2 separate regions of the Homo sapiens genome follow, and region 2 is linked to region 1. The links come from fine-mapping of genetic effects on plasma protein levels. A gene starts in region 1. The other region holds a variant in brackets. All regions are shown on one strand. Distances are from middle to middle. Region 1 holds the start of PCOLCE2 (procollagen C-endopeptidase enhancer 2). Region 2 overlaps XRN1 (5'-3' exoribonuclease 1).

Evidence for each region. PIP is the posterior inclusion probability: the model's chance that the variant is causal. Sun 2018 read protein levels with aptamers (SomaScan).
Region 2: its variant is fine-mapped to the plasma level of the PCOLCE2 protein (Sun 2018, PIP 0.95).

What each region holds. Positions count from the first base shown.
Region 1 is chr3:142,886,187-142,891,430 of GRCh38, reverse strand. It overlaps PCOLCE2 (procollagen C-endopeptidase enhancer 2), which reads left to right and starts at 2,348. Exons shown (of 9, transcript NM_013363.4): 1 at 2,348-2,617; 2 at 3,654-3,762. The coding sequence starts at 2,535. LOC124909443 (a long non-coding RNA gene) reads right to left here and starts at 3,167. Exons shown (of 2, transcript XR_007096122.1): 1 at 2,972-3,167; 2 at 664-1,840. RefSeq lists a silencer at 2,356-2,405.
Region 2 is chr3:142,341,865-142,347,075 of GRCh38, reverse strand. The region is part of intron 33 of XRN1 (5'-3' exoribonuclease 1); the gene reads left to right. Among named protein-coding and RNA genes, the nearest start is that of XRN1, 100 kb to the left of the region's middle. The variant TA/A (reference allele first, on the strand shown) is at 1,059.

The DNA of each region.
Region 1 (5,244 bases):
CTATCACCCTGTGAGGAGGTGCCTTCTGCCATGATTATAAGTTTCCTGAGGACTCCCCAGCCATGTGAAACTGTGAGTCAATTAAACTTCTTTTCTTTATAAATTACCCAGTCTCGGGTATTTCTTCATAGCGGCGTGAGAACAAACTAATAAAAGTCTCTCAATTTTAACACATCAACTTCTCAGGACATTTAAGGTTTATAATTTTGGTCAGAACTGTAGTTCCAAGTCAAATATGTGTTTTTAAGAGCCAATAATATGGGTTTTAGTAAATTCTAAAATCACATGGTAAAATCAATGTCTTATGAGTGTCAACAACAGAATGATTGGTGTTAAAATCCTAACTCTTTAGTGAGCATATGAACACAGTCATCAATCTATAAATTAAGAAATGGCTGTGTATTTTAGTTCAAATAGTTTCCTATTTAGGCACATTTAATACTTTGTTATTTATTTTAAATTTTGAAAACTTAGCTTAGTCCTGAATGAAGTATTTTCTGGTTTACGAGGACTGCAAATCATTACCAGAAAGTGAATTGAGCAATATTTCCCTTTATAATTTAAAACTATGACTTTCAAATAAACAATTATCTAAAAACACTTATGCTATTAGATAGCATATTCTTGAAATGCGTGCAAAATCAACAACCATTTATTCTCCTCTTCCCTGTTTTAAAGACATTTTTATTGGGTTGAGAGTGTTTCAGGATATAAAGCAGTTTGCCAAATTCTGTCACCCTTTTTTTTAATGTCATAAAGGGTGTGGTGCCTGTAGAGAAGTTTTGAAAGTTGTACTTTATGATGTTTTTGCCTTCACTTTTTAAAAAAATGGTAAGATAATCTAAGTCCTGTCCGTATATTCTGGTTCCTAGTATAGGCTTCAGGGTGCACTCACTATGAAAAGTCAGAATATTTCCTGTAGCCAGTTTTACTTACTTCCTTGCCAGGAGTGTTTAGGTTCTTTTTTTTTTTTTTTTCTTTTTTGAGATGGAGTCTCACTCTGTCGCCCGGGGCTGGAGTGCAATGGCGTGATCTCGGCTCACTGCAACCTCCGCCTCCCGGGTTCACGCGATACTTCTGCCTCAGCTTCCCGAGTACCCGGGATTACAGACGCACACCGCAACACCTGGCTAATTTTTTGTATTTTTAGTCGAGGCGGGGTTTCACCATCTTGGCCAGACTGGTTTCGAACTCCTGACCTCGTGATCCGCCCGCCTCGGCCTCCAAAAGTGCTGGGATTACAGGCGTGGGCCATCGCGCCCACCCGTGTTTAGATTCTTAACAGCTCATTATTAGAAATAAAGTCTCGATAAGAACTACTTTAATACTTAATTTTCTTGCTTAGAAAGGTGAAAACAATTTAGAAGGAACAACGTGAGGCATCAAAGTTAAGCTGTATCTCCCATAGCTGGTGATTATTAAAAATCTCTATGAATCTAGTCTGTTCCTGTCATTCTTTTATTAATCCCTGGTTATTGGGAAGCTCTTAACAAAATAAATGTTTAAAATTATATTTCTGTAATTAAGTAAAAGAGAGTATTGATTCCACAAGGCTAGAATTGTTCGTCTAAGAAAAACGAATTCTCCGTAAATTTTAACCCGTTAATACCACAGAAAGATGCTGTTGGAAAGGTCTAAGAACAGAGAGATGCAAGCAGAGAAACACCATTTTCAGAACATGACATGGGATGGTGAGATTTGCTGATTTGGTTCCGTCTTCATTATCTGACATTTAATGACAGTTCACACAGAAATCGCTCGCCTGAAAACCCGTGTTTAAATCCCGGCACAGAGACTGTCTTCCTTGTCATTGTCATACCAGTAAAAAAAAGAAAAGTATCTAGAGAGAGAGAGAGGAGAATAAGCACAGAAGTTAAAATACAATAAAATCCCTTTTCCCTTTCTTTCCTTGGATCTGGGTTTTGAAGGAGACAAAGAAGGACCCCCAGGCTTTCCAGCAGCCAGCAAGCGCTATTACTTTTTATTTAAAAGCAACTGGGAAAAACATTCCCCAAAGCAAAACCAGAAGCCCTCCCTGAGAATCGTCTCTGGGCGTCGGGGCCCGGGCCGCTGGGGTGCCACTCCGCAAGGGGTTCCTCTTCTCCCCGGGGTCCCTGAGGGCTGGACGAGAGAGGACCCGTCGGTCCCGGGGTGCCGGGAGGAGACGTTCGCCCGCCCCACGAGAGGGGGCGGCTCTGGCCTCGGAGCCGCCCCTCCTGCCGCCGGAGAACAAACGGGATATTCAGCAGTGGCCTGTGGCTGCCAGAGCAGCTCCTCAGGGGAAACTAAGCGTCGAGTCAGACGGCACCATAATCGCCTTTAAAAGTGCCTCCGCCCTGCCGGCCGCGTATCCCCCGGCTACCTGGGCCGCCCCGCGGCGGTGCGCGCGTGAGAGGGAGCGCGCGGGCAGCCGAGCGCCGGTGTGAGCCAGCGCTGCTGCCAGTGTGAGCGGCGGTGTGAGCGCGGTGGGTGCGGAGGGGCGTGTGTGCCGGCGCGCGCGCCGTGGGGTGCAAACCCCGAGCGTCTACGCTGCCATGAGGGGCGCGAACGCCTGGGCGCCACTCTGCCTGCTGCTGGCTGCCGCCACCCAGCTCTCGCGGCAGCAGTCCCCAGAGAGGTAACGCGACCCCTGCCCGGGCTCCCTTTCTCTCCTTTCCCTTCCTCCACCCCTGCAGCCTCGCCTGCTGCTTTACTCAACCCGCTTCGGCGCGCCTGGGTGACCCAGCGCTCGACCCTGCGCTCCCGCGCGGTGCAGGCGTCCGCCACCCTCGGGTAGGCTAAGCCCGGGACTTCGGGACCCATCCTTGCTCGCGGGGCTCCCTCCTGGGTCCCCAGCCCGGCCTGCCGGATGGCCCTGCAGCTGGCTTGGCCACCACGTGGCGGGGCTTAATCTGACTTGTGTCTCCCCTCTCCTCGTGTCTATGGGGCCAGAGGGAAGCACTGGGGCCCAAATATGTGGATTTTGGTTTACCGCTGTTTTTTTTCCTTCCCCGAGAGGCTTTGCCCAGAGACGTAAACTAGGGAACAACCCTAGCGGCGCGGCGCCTAGGGAGCCGCTCCGGAAAGTTAACTCTTCGCCAACCTCTGGAAGGCCCCAGGAGCTGGGCTGTGGGACCTGCCCGGTGGCCAACTTTGGCATCACCTCTTCAGCCTCCATCAACATCAGCCTCCCTTTCGATGGGAAGCTCTGCCAATGGCGAGTGATTTTCAGAAAGGGGGAGGAGAACTGGGCATCTCTCCAAATATGGGAACGACAAACTTTTTTTATATTAACCAATTGCTTGCCTGTCTTTCTTTAAAACCATGCTTCTCATTCAGCCTGGCTCTTACCTTCTCTCCCACTCCCCCAGTTAAATTGATGTATTTACCATTTTCCTACAAGACTTTGCCACAATGCCGAGGACTTGATTATACATATATATAATCTTGTGTTATTATGATGGAGACAGATGGCGCTGGACTGAATGCTTTGTCAGGCTATAATTTAAATATTCTAGGAGCTAGCAAATTTTCAGATCCCTTATATGGTGCAAGCATTGATTAATCAACATTAACTTTTATTTATATTAATAGGCTACACCTTTCTGAAGGTAACATCAGATTGTTAGACCATGTTTCAAATTACATTATCTTTTCTTCTTTTATGTTCCCAGACCTGTTTTCACATGTGGTGGCATTCTTACTGGAGAGTCTGGATTTATTGGCAGTGAAGGTTTTCCTGGAGTGTACCCTCCAAATAGCAAATGTACTTGGAAAATCACAGTAAGCATTTTTTAAAAAGGTATTCTCCTGGAAGTGGGTGTTGGCAACAGTGTGAGGCTGCTGCCTTTTTCCTCTGGTGTTAGGATTTGAGTAAGAGGCAAATGCCTGAAATAGTGAAATGTTGGATTTACCCCAACTATTGGGAAGATTTTTATTAATATAATAGATCTAGTCGTGTCCTGCATTAGTGATTACAAAGGGCACAAGATAATGCTTGAAGGAATAAATTCTCAGAGCAGATGTGTTTCTGAAAGCCCAGTGTGACTCAGTTGAGTTTTATAGATTCATAATTAAAGCTGTTTTCAGTCAAAGGCCTGTTGTAATGACCTTCATAAGTTTTTTGTTGCTCGTGCCTTCATAAATTCCCAGTGGGAAATGGAAGATCAAAGATAGTGCTTTGACTACTCTATGCTCATTAGGAAAGGAAAAAGAAAAAAAATAAAAAAAGCCCACTTAATGTTCCTGGGTTGAAACCACCTCTAAAGGCAGTCTAAGAATAGAGAATGGGGGGGTGGGAATCTAAATAGCAGCCAAGGGCCAATAAAAAGTCCATGCTGATTAGTAATAACATAGATTATGCTGAGTCAAGATAAGCTGGATTTAGAGACAGCCATATATTTTTTAACTGATTTAGAGTCAACTAGAGTGAGTCATCTTTCCAGTCAGCATAGCATTGACTGTTACCTTCTTCACTTTTTCGTTGTTGGGAAGTTGTTTAGTAATTGAATACGTTGGTTCACTGAGAGCTTCTTTCAGTCAGATTGTGCCACTGGAGGACTTAGATTTTTTAAAAAGTAGCCCCCACTGAATGTGTAAACTAGCAGTTACTGTGTGCCAGGCATTTACCATGCCAAGTAGTTAGCAAGTATAATCACCCAGAATCCTCAAAACAACTGTATGAGAAAGTATCTATTATCATCCCTATTTTATAGATGGGGAAGCTGAGGCCTGAAACAATTATAGAAATTGACTTGATCAGACAGTCGGGAAGCCCAACTTTATGTAAAAGTAAAACCTACTTTGCAATAAGGTATTCCCACTGAGGTCATTTTGCAGGCAGATATGAGAGGTCCCCTTCCATAATATAAAACTCAGCTCTTACATGCCTTGACGGCCTCTTGTAAAATGCCAACCATGTCACAAACTGGTACAGATTTCATTATGTTATTATAGCACATGTGGCCAGGAAAGAAGTCATAGAAAATAAGTTTGAAATACTATTAACATAAATGTCAAATAAGTCTCTGAAACAAAAATAAAAGCAGCTTGATTTTCATGTCGTGATTGTGTTTTAAATGTAATTAAATGGCCATAAGTTTTAAACGACCCTAGAAAATCAATGGCTCAGAGGCGTCATGTGCCCAAGTAGAAATTCATGGTTGGCCATGTGTTCTGAGTATTGCGGACAGGTTGATGTGACTTTACACTTTGACTGGGGTTGGGGGGCACGTCCAGTGAAAGCTTTCCTTGATAAAGGAACGG
Region 2 (5,211 bases), 540 kb after region 1:
CCACCATCTAAATTTAGAACATTTTTTGTCACCTGAAAAAGAAACACCATACCTATTAGCAGTCACTCCTCCAGGCCTTGGCAACCCATAGTTTACTTTCTGCCTCTATGGATATGCCTATTCTAGACACTTCATATAAATGGAATCAGAAAATATATGAACTTTTATGACTGGCTTCTTTCACTTGTGTATTTTCAAGATTTATCTATGTTGTAGCATGTTCAGTCGGCCCTCTGTACCTGTGGGTTCCACATCCATGGATTCAACCAACTGAGGATCAAAAATATTCAGAAAAGGCAGGGCACGGTGGCTCATGCCTGTAATCCCAGCACTTTGGGAGGCCAAGGCAGGCAGATCACTTGAGCCCAGGAGTTCAAGACCAGCCTGGGCAACATGGCAAAACCCTATCTCTACCAAAAATACAAAAATTAGCCAGGTGTGGTGGCATGCACCTGTAGTCCCTGCTATTCAGGAGGCTGAGGTAGAAGGATTGCTTGAGCCTGGGGGGCGGAGGTTGCAGTGAGCTAAGATCAGCCACTACACTCCAGCCTGGGTGACAGAGTGAGACCCCTTCTCAAAAAAAAAAAAAAGAGGATGATTGTGTCTGCTCTCAACATGTGCACACTTTTTAATCTTATTATTCCCCTAAACAATACAGTATGACAACTATTTACACAGCATTTACATTGTATCAAGCATTATAAGTAATCTAGGGATTATTTAATATATAAAGAGTATGTTTGTAGATTATATGCAAATACTACACTATTTTCTGTAAGGGACTTGAACATATGTGGATTTTGATAGCCACAGGAGGGTCTTGGAAGCAATCTTCCACAGATATGGAGGGACAACTGTATCAGTACTTCATCCTTTCTTATGGCTGAATAATATTCCATTGTATGAATGCTACATTTTATCGGTTCATCCATTTGTAGACATGGAGGTTGTTTCCACATTGGGGCTATAGTGAATAATGCTGCTATGAATATCTGTGGAAAAGTTTTTGTGTGAACATATGTTTTCAGTTCTCTTGGGTATATGCATATGAGTGAAAT[TA/A]CTGAGTCATATAGTGGTAACTCTTAAGTTCAGCTTTTTGTATAACTGCCGAACTGTTTGGATATTACCATTTTACCTTTGCACCAGGGATGTGTGAAGGTCCAATTTCTCCACATCCTTCACAACATTTGTTATTGTCCCTCTCTTTGACAATAGTCGTCCTACTAGGTGTGAGGTGGAATGTTCTTGTGGTTTTCATTTGTAATTTATTAATGACTAATAATGTTGAGCATCTTTTCATGTATATCATCTTTGGAGAAATGTCAGTTCAAATCCTTGGTTCATTTTTTAATTGGATTTTTTAATCTTTTTTCTTGGTTTGTAAGAGTTCTTTATACATGCTAGATATTACATGCTTCTTGGATATGTGATTTGCAAATATTTTCTCCCATTCTGTGGGTTTTCTTTTAACTTTCTTTATACTCTATTGAAACACGAAAGTTTTAAATTTTGATGAAGTCCAATTTGTGTATTTTTTCTGCTTTGTCTTTGGTTGCTTGTACCTTAGGTGTACATCTAAGAAACCATTCCCTAATCCAAAGTCACAAAGAGTTACAGTGTGTTTTCTTCTAAGAATTGTATAGTTTTAGCTTTTAGATTTAGGTCTCTTTCCATTTTGAGTAAAAGTTTATACATGGTATGATGTAGGAGTTCATATTCATTCTTCTGCATGTGGATATCCATTTATCCAAACATTGTTTGTTAAAAAGACTACTCTTTCCCCATTGAATTTTCTTGACACCCCATTGAATAGTCTTGGCACCCTTGTCAAAAATTATTTGGCTATAGAGCCAGGCATGCATCTGTAGTACCAGCTGCCCAGGAGTCTGAGGCAGGAGGATTGCTTGAACCCAGGAGTTTGAGTCCAGCCCGGGAAACATATTAAGACACCATCTCATTTTTAAGAAGTAATTGACTGTAGATGTATGGGTTCATTTCTGGACTCTCAATTCCATTCCACTAATGTATATGCCCGTCCTTATGTGAAATACACAGTCTTGATTACTGTAGCTTTGTTGTAAGTTTTGAAATCAGGAAGTTTGAGCCCTCTTTGTTTTTCTTTTTCAGGATTGTTTTCTCTATTCTGGGCCTCTTGCATTTCCATATGAATTTTATGATCATCTTGCCTATTTCTGCAAAAATGGCAGCTGGAATTTTTATAGGGATTGCATTGAATCTGTAGGTTACTTTGGGTAGTATTGTCATCTTAACAGTATTAAGTTTTCCTGTCCATGAACACAAGATGTCTTTCCATTTATTTCGGTCTTTAATTTCTTTCCATGATGTCTTGTAGTTTTCAGTTATGCAAGTCTTACACTTTTTTGTTAAATTTATTCCTAAATATTTTACTCTTTTTCATGCTTTTTTCAATGGAACTGGGTTTTTAATTTTATTTTTTGATTGTTCATTTCTGTTATAGATATAAAACTGATTTTTGTATATTGCCTTAACTGTTTATTAGCCCTAATTTTTTGTGGCTTCTGCAAATAGAGATAGTTTTACTTTTTCCTATATAATCTCAATGCCTTTTATTTCTTTTGTTGCCTAATTGCTGTGTTTACAACAGCTAGTACAGTGCTGAATAGAAGTGGTGAGAACATGCATCCTTGCCTTTTATTTGTTTTTTATCTTTTATTTTTAATTTTTGTGGATACATAGTAGGTATATATATTTATGGGTTACATGAGATATTTTGTTACAGGCATGCAATGCATAATGATCACATCAGGGTAAATAGGGTATTCATCACCTCAAGCATTTATCTTTTATGTTAGAAACAACATAATTATGTTCTCTTATTTATTTAAAAATATACAATTATTTTTATTATAGTCACCCCATTATGCTAGCAAATACTAGGTCTAATTCATCTATTTTTTTGTACCTGCTAACCATCCCCACTTCCCACCCCTCCCCCCCACTACTCTTCCCAGCCTCTAGTAACCATCCTTCTACTCTATTTTCATGAGTTCAGTCGTTTTTAATTTTTAGCTCCCACAAATAAATGAAAACATGTGAAATTTGTCTTTCTGTGCCTGGCTTATTTCACCTAACATATGATCTCCAGTTTGATCCATGTTGTTGCAAATGACAGGATCTCATTCTTTTTTTATGGCCGAATAGTACTCCATTGTGTATATGTACCACATTTTCTTTATCTGTTCACCTGTTGATGGACACTTAGGTTGTTTCCAAATCTTAGCTGTTGTGAACAGTGCTGCAACAAACATGAAAGTGGAGATAATCTCTGCAATATATTGATTTCCTTTCTTTGGGGTATATACCTAGCAGTGAGATTGCTGAATTATTTGGTAGCTCTATTTTTAGTTTTTTACAAAACCTCCAAATTGTTCTCCATAGTGTTTGTACTAATTTACATCTCCACCAACAGTATACAGGGGTACCTTTTTCTCCACATCCTCACCAGCGTTTGTTACTCCCTATCTTTTGGATAAAAGCCATTTTATCTGCGGTGACATGATATCTCATTATAGTTTTGATTTGCATTTCTTTGATGATCAATGATGTTGAGCACCTTTTCTTTTTTTCTTTTTTTTTTTTAAGACGGAATTTCGCTCTTGTTGCCCAGGCTGGAGTGCAATGGTGCGATCTCAGCTCACTGAAATCTTCGCCTCACTGGTTCAAGCGATTCTCCTGCCTCAGCCTCCTGAGTAGCTGGGATTACAGGCGTGTGCCACCACGCCTGGCTAGTTTTTGTATTTTTAGTAGAGACAGGGTTTCACCATCTTGGCCAGGCTGGTCTCAAACTCCTGACCTCGTGATCCACATGCCTCGGCCTCCCAAAGTGCTGGGATTACAGGTGTGAGCGCCTGGCTGAGCACCTTTTCATATACCTGTTTGCCATTTATGCCTCTTGTTTTGAGAAAAGTCTATTCGAAGCTTTTGCTCATTTTTTAATGAGATTATGAGATTTTTTTCCTAGAAAGTTGTTTGAGCTCCTTATATATTCTGGTTATTATCCATCTTGTCAGATGGATAGTTTGCAAATATTTTTTCCCATTCTGTGTATTGTCTCTTCATGTTGTTGATTGTTTCCTTTGCTGTGTAGAAGTTTTTTAACTTGATGTGATCCCATTTGTTTATTTTTGCTTTGGTTGCCTGTGCTTGTGGGGGACTACTCAAGAAATCTTTGCCCAGTCCAGTGTCGGAGTTTCCCCAATGTTTTCTTTGAGTACTGTCATACTTTAGGCTTAGACTTAAGTCTTTAATCCATTTTGATTTTTGTATATGGCAAGAGATGGAGGTCTAGTTTCATTTTTCTGCACATGGATATCCAGTTTTCCCAGCACCATTTATTGAGGAGACTACTCTCTCCCCAATGTATGTTCTTGGTGCCTTTGTCAAAAATGAGATGTGTGGATTTATTTCTGGGTTCACTGTTCTGTTCCACCGGTCTGTGTGTTTGTTTTTATGTCAGTGCCATGCCATTTTCATTACCATAGTTCTGTAGTATGATTTGAAGTCAGGTAATGTGATTCTTCCAGTTTTGTTCCTTTTGCTCAGGATACCTTTGGCTATTCTGGGGTTTTTGTGGTTCCATGTAAATTTTATGATTGTTTTTTCTATTTATGTAAAGAATTTCATTGGTATTTTGACAGGGATTGCATTGAATCTGTAGATCCCTTTGAGTAATAGGACATTTTAACAATATTGATTCTTCCAGTCTGTGAACCTTGGAATATCTTTCTCTTTTTTTGTGTCCTCTTCAATTTCTTGCATCAATGTTTTATAGTTTTCATTGTAGAGAACTCTTTGGTTAATTCCTAGGTAATTAGTTTTATCTGTAGCTATTGTAAATGGAATTACTTTCTTGATATCTTTTTCAGATTGTTTGCCGTTAACATATAAAAATGCTACTGATTTTTGTATGTTGATTTTGCATCCTGAAACTTTACTGAATTTATCAGTTCTGATAGTTTTTTGGTGGAGTATTCAGGTTTTTCCAAATATTGTTTGGTTCCCATCTGGAAAGTCAGTACAATGCTGAAAGTGGAATCTTGACGTATCCAGCTATTACTATATTTGGATTTATCTCTTTCTTTAGCTCCAGTAATATTTGCTCTATATACCTGGGTGCTCCAGTGTTGGAAATATATTTTTTTACAATTGTTTTTATACAGTTGTTATATC